2 linked regions of the Homo sapiens genome follow. The protein of the gene in region 1 purifies or fractionates together with the protein of each later gene. This does not show direct contact. Each region holds a gene or a part of one and is shown on either strand. Other genes may lie near its edges. The genes, in order: MPZL2 and OCLN.

Evidence for each region.
Region 2: the proteins of MPZL2 (region 1) and OCLN purify together in Homo sapiens (affinity purification with mass spectrometry, with the first as the bait; one large-scale study listed by BioGRID). This does not show direct contact.

What each region holds. Positions count from the first base shown.
Region 1 is NC_000011.10:118,254,288-118,258,110, forward strand, and holds part of MPZL2 (myelin protein zero-like protein 2 precursor), read right to left. Parts: intron 3,027-3,823; coding exon 2,963-3,026; 3' UTR 2,951-2,962; exon of another isoform or gene 2,624-2,950; intron 947-2,623; 3' UTR 1-946. UniProt on the Homo sapiens protein: Mediates homophilic cell-cell adhesion.
Region 2 is NC_000005.10:69,499,126-69,502,948, reverse strand, and holds part of OCLN (occludin), read right to left. Parts: intron 1-3,823. UniProt on the Homo sapiens protein: May play a role in the formation and regulation of the tight junction (TJ) paracellular permeability barrier.

The sequences.
Region 1 (3,823 bases):
AAATTATCATCATTTAGAGTTGATTTTTTTCACCAGCCCTGAATTTTCAAACTTGTAATATGCTGTTTCACAATTTTTTTATTAAATTACTTAATGATTCCAGTCTGCAAATGAGCATAGACTTTGCTCTGTTGTTATAGATCATTGAATTGGGGGGGAAACATAGTAAGCTAAACTATCCGTCACTGCTCATGAAAGACCCACATTGTTGATTATTTTTCCCAGCACAGAAGAAAAGTGACAAGTGATTCATCCTGCAATGGCCTCTGCCAATCTTTTCATATCTATGTAACCTTTTGTAGTTACTGTGTGATTTAGCGTTGTGCTATTGTAAATCTTGGATTAATTAACAAAACAACAAAAATCTATCACCTGGAATATTGAAAGAAATTCAGTAAAACAAGATGTGTCTCATAGTTAAGGAGAGACATAAAAATAAAAATGTCATTTAACAGTTTGAATTTAGGATTTACTGTTAATCAGAAACACCGAGGAGGCTTAGCTCACCTTTTAATTGAGAATGTGGGAAGGAAAGAGAGTAAACACATTAACTTTAGTAGCAGAAGTGCTGCTAAAAGAAATACGTGAAAGGAAATGTAACAGACAAATTGGCTTTTATCCCTTTTGATACCAATATATGTGTATACAAGTCATAACACTGTAAGTAGTGTCTTAAGGGCAAAAATGTAGCTTCTTGTTTATAAAACCTAATGAGCACTTGAAAAAATTTACACTCTGAAATTAAATAAGACCTTAATAATGAGGCTGTGTATGACTGGTGATATGGAGGAGCACTGTGCTGGCTCCAGAGGGGTGTTGCTTGTCTAGAATCTAATATGCTGCAGAACTGGTTGGAAAACGGGTCACAACTGGAAAAGCCAAAGAAAAGTTTCCATTAACTTCAAGAAATACTAGGGTTCTTGTTCTTGGAAATCATCTCAGCTTCCTAAAACACAAAACAAAAGTTTAAATGGATAATATATTTGAGAAGAGTACAATAGGAATACTTGGCATTATGAATTACATATATGTTATTAGAAGGAAAATATTCTGAGGGAAAGTATTCATATTCTCCCCCAATTTAATTTTTAAAAGAAGTTTCCTAATCCTTATTACATAATTTTCAGAGTTAGTATCCTTAAATCATGGCCTCTAAGTACCTTGCATGGACACTTGGATGACCCACAACTTGTTCACACACATACATCCCATATTCTCCCCACTTCTCACTCTCATTACAAACAAAATCAGACATATAGAAAAGTAGAGAACAGAGTATGTGGAATTTACCCATCCCTTAAATTCATTAATTCATTCTTTTCTTTTCTTTTCTCCCCTCATCTCCCCCATCACCTAATTCTGAAGCCTTTTTTGTTTTATTTGCTTTTTTCCTATGCTTTTAAAGTAAATTGCTGACATTTACCCCAATACTCCAGTAAGAATTTTTCAAAATAGGTACATTTTCTTTATAACTACAATACCATCACTATACCTAATACAAACTAACAATAATTCCCTAATATTATCCATATATTTAACATTTTCATATTCAAGACTTTCCCAATTGCCCCTCCAAGCTTGTTTTTACAACTAGCTTGTTCACACTATTATTCATCCAGTTGGGGATCACACATTGCACTTTGATTGTGTTCATCTCTTAAGTTTCTTTTGATCTAAAACATCTCCCATATTTATTTTCCATGACCCCAAGTTGTTAGATAATCCCCTTAACTTTAAAAAGACAATAGCCGTTGGTTGGTAAAAACTCCCTAATGTTAATTTTGGTTTTCTGGTTTTACAATACAATCATTTTACTCCATATTCTATTTTATAAATCCTTGAGGTCTTTCACTGGAGCTTTAGCCTATAAAAATGTGACCCTCTTTGCAACTAATAACGGTCTGTAAAAAATGTTCTCCCGTGTAACAGAGCCAGAGTTTTACAGGATAAAGTCATTAATATCAAGAACTTTCTTATGAGCGTAAAATTTAAGTTTGCATGTCCGGATTTATAACATCTAGAAATTAAATGTGTGGACCTATTTCAGAGAATGGGAGAAATTCTGAGCATATGAAAAATAAATTGGCCCGGCGCAGTGGCTTATGCCTGTAATCCCAACACTTTGGGAGGCTGAGGCAGGTGGATCGCTTGAGCTCAGGTGAGACCAGCCTAGGCAACATGGGGAAACCCCGTCTCTACAAAAAGTACAAAAATTAGCTGGGTGTAGTGGCGCGCACCTGTGGTCCCAGCTACTTGGGAGGCTGAGGTAGGAGGATCACTTGAGCTTGGGAGGGAGAAGTTGCAGTGACCCGAGATCGCACCACTACACCCTAGCCTGGGCAACAGGTTGAGACCCTGTCTCAAAAACAAAGACAAGAAAAATAAATTATCCTACTTTTTAAGCCTGATGAACCTGAAAACTGGAAAAATAAAATTATACGCTACTAAAACTGGATTCATTTCATGTAGTTATTAGTGCCAATAACTAAATGAGAGGAGTTGAAATCAATTCCAAATAGTACAAAAGCTCTCCTGTAAAAACTGCCAGATATGTCTATTGAGTCACTCTCTTAATACCATAATTGGTTTACAATTAAAAAAAAAGAATAAGCAGATACTAATCTTTTGATTTAAAAAAGATTTATTTACTTGTTGAATATTTATTAGTAGTAGTAGTAATAAATATAACCCCGAAGCCACAAATAACCTTAGGATTCTCTCAGCTTTAATGGCAGTAGAGTCCAGCTTCTTAATCTTTTGCACAAAATACACTCAAGGAGGAGCTATCCATAAGACTAATAGAAGACTTTTGTCTCCCTGACCCAGCTCCTCTAATTTCATATGGGAAACACCTAACAGCCATAAAGTGATGATCTGGGAGTCCTCATTAGAGATGGGCTGGACATGTCAGAAAGCTGAAGAAAGAAATCAACCTATTTGTGAACCTTACCATCTAAAATTGTTAGTCTGTGTCTTCTAAATAAACAGAGACCTTTTTCTCTTGGTTGAGCCTTTCCTCTTCTTTTCTGTAACAAGCAGAAACCAAATGTCAGGTGAACAAGACAAGAAGCAAGTGGGTAAATCCCACAGAAGCTTCAGGTAAGGTATTTTTCCCCCATATTTTTGGAAGAATTACATGCACTTGGGAGTAGATTGAAGTTTACACAGAGCTAAACTGGTGCCATCTAATTAATAATATTCACACCTCTGAACTTAGAGACTTTTCAGAATGTAAGGGAATACAGTTTGGGTTCTGATTCGGGAACTCCAGAGTTTTAAAGCAGACACCTTATTTTACCATTAGTATCCCACCTCTAATTTATATTTGTTATTCAAAAAAAAAATAAAAAGTTTTGTGTTGACCTAAGTCATCTTTATTGGTTCTATTCAAACTAGAACCTCAGAGTTGGGTTTGTTAGGCTTCTTAAAATTAGTTCTGTTTCGCCAGGCGCGGTGGCTCACGCTGTAATCCCAACACTTTGGAAGGCCAAGGCAGGTACATCACTTGAGATCAGGAGTTCAAGACCAGCCTGACCAACATGGTGAAACCCCATCTCTACTAAAAATACAAAATTAGCTGGGCATGGTGGTACATGCCTGTAATCCCAGCTACTTGGGAAGCTGAGGCAAGAGAATCGCTTGAACCCAGGAGGCGGAGGTTGCAGTGAGCTGAGATCATGCCATTGCACTCCAGCCTGGGCAACCAGAGTGAAAGTCTGTCTCAAAAAAAAAAAAGGCTGTTTATTTCATTAAATATTTATTAAGGAAATGAGATAAATGGTGCTGGAACAACTAGATATCCACATGCAAAAGAGTGAATTTG
Region 2 (3,823 bases), on another chromosome or scaffold:
TGTGCTTTTCACTATGCTAGTTTGAAACAATGAGTTCCATTTGGGAAACACCAGTTTTTGTGGGGAGTGCACATCTGGTGTTAGCATCCATGAGGAAGTGAAGATGGAGGTCATCTGCCTACGTCCGTAGGTGGATCCATGGGCACTGAGAGCTCTCCAGGAAAAAGACAAGTCTCAGCAAGATGTGGTAAACACACAACCCCCTAACCTATAAAGCTTGAGGATTATTCTAGAAAACCCAGTGCTGGAGACACTGGCAAGGTACTTCCCACATCAGCTACAGAACTTCATGCCACTCCTTAGCTATGTTGAACCAACAATAAATTCTTTCCAGGTTATACCAGTGATTAGTAGAGTAGGGAACTTTGAGATCTACTGGAAGGTAAATTCCATGTGAGCAGGAATTTTTGCATGTTTTGTTCACTGATTAAATCAATGCCTGGCACATAGTAGACGTCCAGATAATTTGTTGAATGTTTACAGGAACCAGATTGGACCATGGATATCTCTGCCTGCAAAACCTCTTGTGCTTTCAAGTTGAAGGTAACGGAAAAGTATCAGAGTAACTTTAAAAGGTATGATCCCTGAATGACACTTGAGTAACATCTATAATGAGTACATTAAAGTATCTGATTTTTTTTCCTTTTCTAATACGGTCTGTACAATCATACATTAATATATTAACAACAGTACATCAATTCAGACTCTTAAAACTTTTTTTTAAATTAATGGCAACTCTTTTTTTTTTTTTTGAGCCGAGTCTCGCTCTGTCACCAGGATGGAATGCAATGGCATGATCTCAGCTCACTGCAATCTCCGCCTCCCGGCTTCAAGCGATTCTCCTGCCTCAGCCTCCCGAGTAGCTGGGACTACAGGCGCACGCTGCCACGCCCGGCTAATTGTTTGTATTTTTAGTAAAGATGGGGTTTCACCATGTTGCACAGTCTGGTGTCAAACTCCTGAGCTCAGGCAATCTGCCCTCCTTGGCCTCCCAAAGTGCTGGGATTACAGGCATGAGCCACCACGCCCCACCTGGCAACTCTCTTCTATACCCTTTAGGACAGTGTATTTCAAATCTCTCAGAATTAAACCCTGCCCAACTATGTATTAGATAAATCCTCAAAGATGGAAATATATAGAATGTTAATAACACCAACACAATTAGCATAATTTTCCAAAGACATGAAGGAAGATGACTTTTCTACATTTTTAAAAGCCACTTTTAAAGTATACCATAGAGAAAAGTGCACAAATCATAAGTGTACACAGCCCTGTAACTAGCACTCAAGTCAATTTCTCTATACTTTTTTTTTTTTTCTTTTGAGACAAGGTCTCATTCTGTTGCCCAGGATGAAATGCAGTGCCATCATCTCAGCTCACTACAACCTGCCTCCCAGGCTCAAGCAATCCTCCTGCCTCAGCCTCACAAGTAGCTGGACTACAGGCACATGCCACCACGCCTGGCTAATTTTTGTATTTTTAGTAGAGATAAGGTTTCACCATGTTGCCCAGGCTGGTCTCAAACCCCTGAGCTCAAGCTATCCACCTGCCTTGGCCTCCCAAAGTACTGGGATTACAGGCATGAGCCAATACACCTGGCCAATTTCTCTATATTCTAGTAATGGTGAAACACACATACAAATGAGCAATTTAGGCGAAAATGTTATGGTACTATAAAAAGGCAAAAGTCCAGATTGTCTTCAGAAAAAGAACATTAAGGAATACTGAATTTAGGCCAGGTGAGGTGGCTCACACCTGTAATTCCAGCACTTGGGAGGTGGAGACAGGTGGATCACCCTAGGTCAGGAGTTCGAGACCAGCCTGGCCATCATGGCAAAACCCCGTCTCTACTAAAAATACAAAAATTAGCTGGGCATGGTGGCACGTGCCTGTAATCCCAGCTACTTGAGAAACTGAGGCATGAGAATCGCTTGAGCCCGAGGTGGAGGTTGCAGTGAGCCAAGATTGTGCCACTGCACTCCAGCGTGGGTGACAGAGCAAGACTCCTTTAAAAAAAAAAAGTAAAACAGAAAATCTGAAGTTAAGCACTATTAAATGTGGGATCCTAGTTCTGAAGCTGAATGTCAAATATCCCCAAATTCTAGGTTCAGTGGTAGTTTTGGAAACTCTAAATTAATCCAGACTCAGTCTTAAGTTGTCAAAAATTCAAACAAGATCCCTTTTCAAACTGCTATTTCCAGGATTCAGAGTTGTCACGTCTCCCCAAAAGCACGGATTTTAAATTGTGAACCAAATCATGTGGCTCATGCCTGTAATCCCAGCACTTTGGGAGGCCGAGGCAGGTGGATCACATGAGGTCTGGAGTTCAAGACCAGCTGACCAATGTGGTGAAACCCTATCTCTACTAAAAATACAAAAAATTAGAGGGGCGTGGTGGTGCATGCCTGTAAACCCAGCTACTTGGGAGGCTGAGGTAGCAGAATTGCTTGAACCTGGGAGGCGGAGTTCGCAGTGAGCCAGTATTGCGCCATTGCACTCCAGCCTGGGCAAAAAGAGCAAAACTCCGTCTCAAAAAAAAAAAAAAGAAAAGAAAGCTCGTTAAGAACAAGTCATGCCACACCAACTTCATTTCCTTTTCTGGGAAGGTTACCAAACTGGTGGATTTTATTTTCTCCTTTATTATTTCCTCTTCAGGGAATGCAGAGAGAAAGAATCCTGAAAATCTTGAGCACATCCTTGTGTGGGTGGGCAGATTCCCAAGGGGCTGGATTACGGCACCCAATTAGCACAAAAGAATGAACCATTTATGTCCACCTGGTGGGAGGTCTCCACTGGTAAACACAGACAAAGTGGAGGAGACACGCTTATCCAGATTTGCAGCTGACCAAACACACTGGAAAGGATAACTAACCCATTGGCTAGGGCCATCAACACTAAGCAAGATCTCTGTAATGTCAGAATGATGAGTTTGAAACAACCTAGTGGTTTTAACAGCCCCCATTTACTGGCTCGCAATCTGAGACAAATTCCTTATCTCCTCTAAGTGCACTCAAATGCGGGAATAATCCTGACCTCTGCACTGGGATAAGAAAAAGTCTTAAAGAGCTGGGCGCAGTGGTTCACGCCTGTGATCCCAGCACTTTGGGAGGCCGAGGCGGGTGGATCACGAGGTCAAGAGATCAAGACCATCCTGGTCAACATAGTGAAACCCTGTCTCTACTAAAAAAATACAAAAATTAGCTGGGCTTGGTGGCGCGCGCCTGTAGCCCCAGCTACTCAGGAGGCTGAGGCAGGAGAATCGCTTGAATCCAGGAGGAGGAGGTTGCAGTGAGCTGAGGTCACGCCACTGCACTCCAGCCTGGCGACGGAGCGAGACTCCGGCTCAAAAAAAAAAGAAAGAAAAAAACCACAAGAAAAAGTCTTCAAGAAAATGGGCAACTGCATTCATCATAAGGTGGTTATCCTGAAAGTAAGAAATTTCAGTGCTTAGGCACTTAGGTATATTGTATCCATTTTCAAATACAGCTGACCCTCCACATCCATGGGTTTTAAATTCTGATTCAACCAACCTCAGACAGAAAATATTCAGGGGAAAAAAAAATTAAAAATTACAGGGCAGGTACAGTGGCTCACACCTGTAATCCCAACACTCTAGGAAGCTGAAGCAGGAAGATCACTTGAACCCAGGAGTCCAAGACTGACCACAGCAACATAGTAAGACCCCATCTCCACAAAAAATTTTTCTTAAAATTAGCCAGGCATGGTGGCACATCCCTGTAAGTTCCAGCTACTCAAGAGACTGAGATGGGAGGATCTCTTGAGCAGAGGAAGTTGAGGCTGGAGTGATCATGCCACTATACTC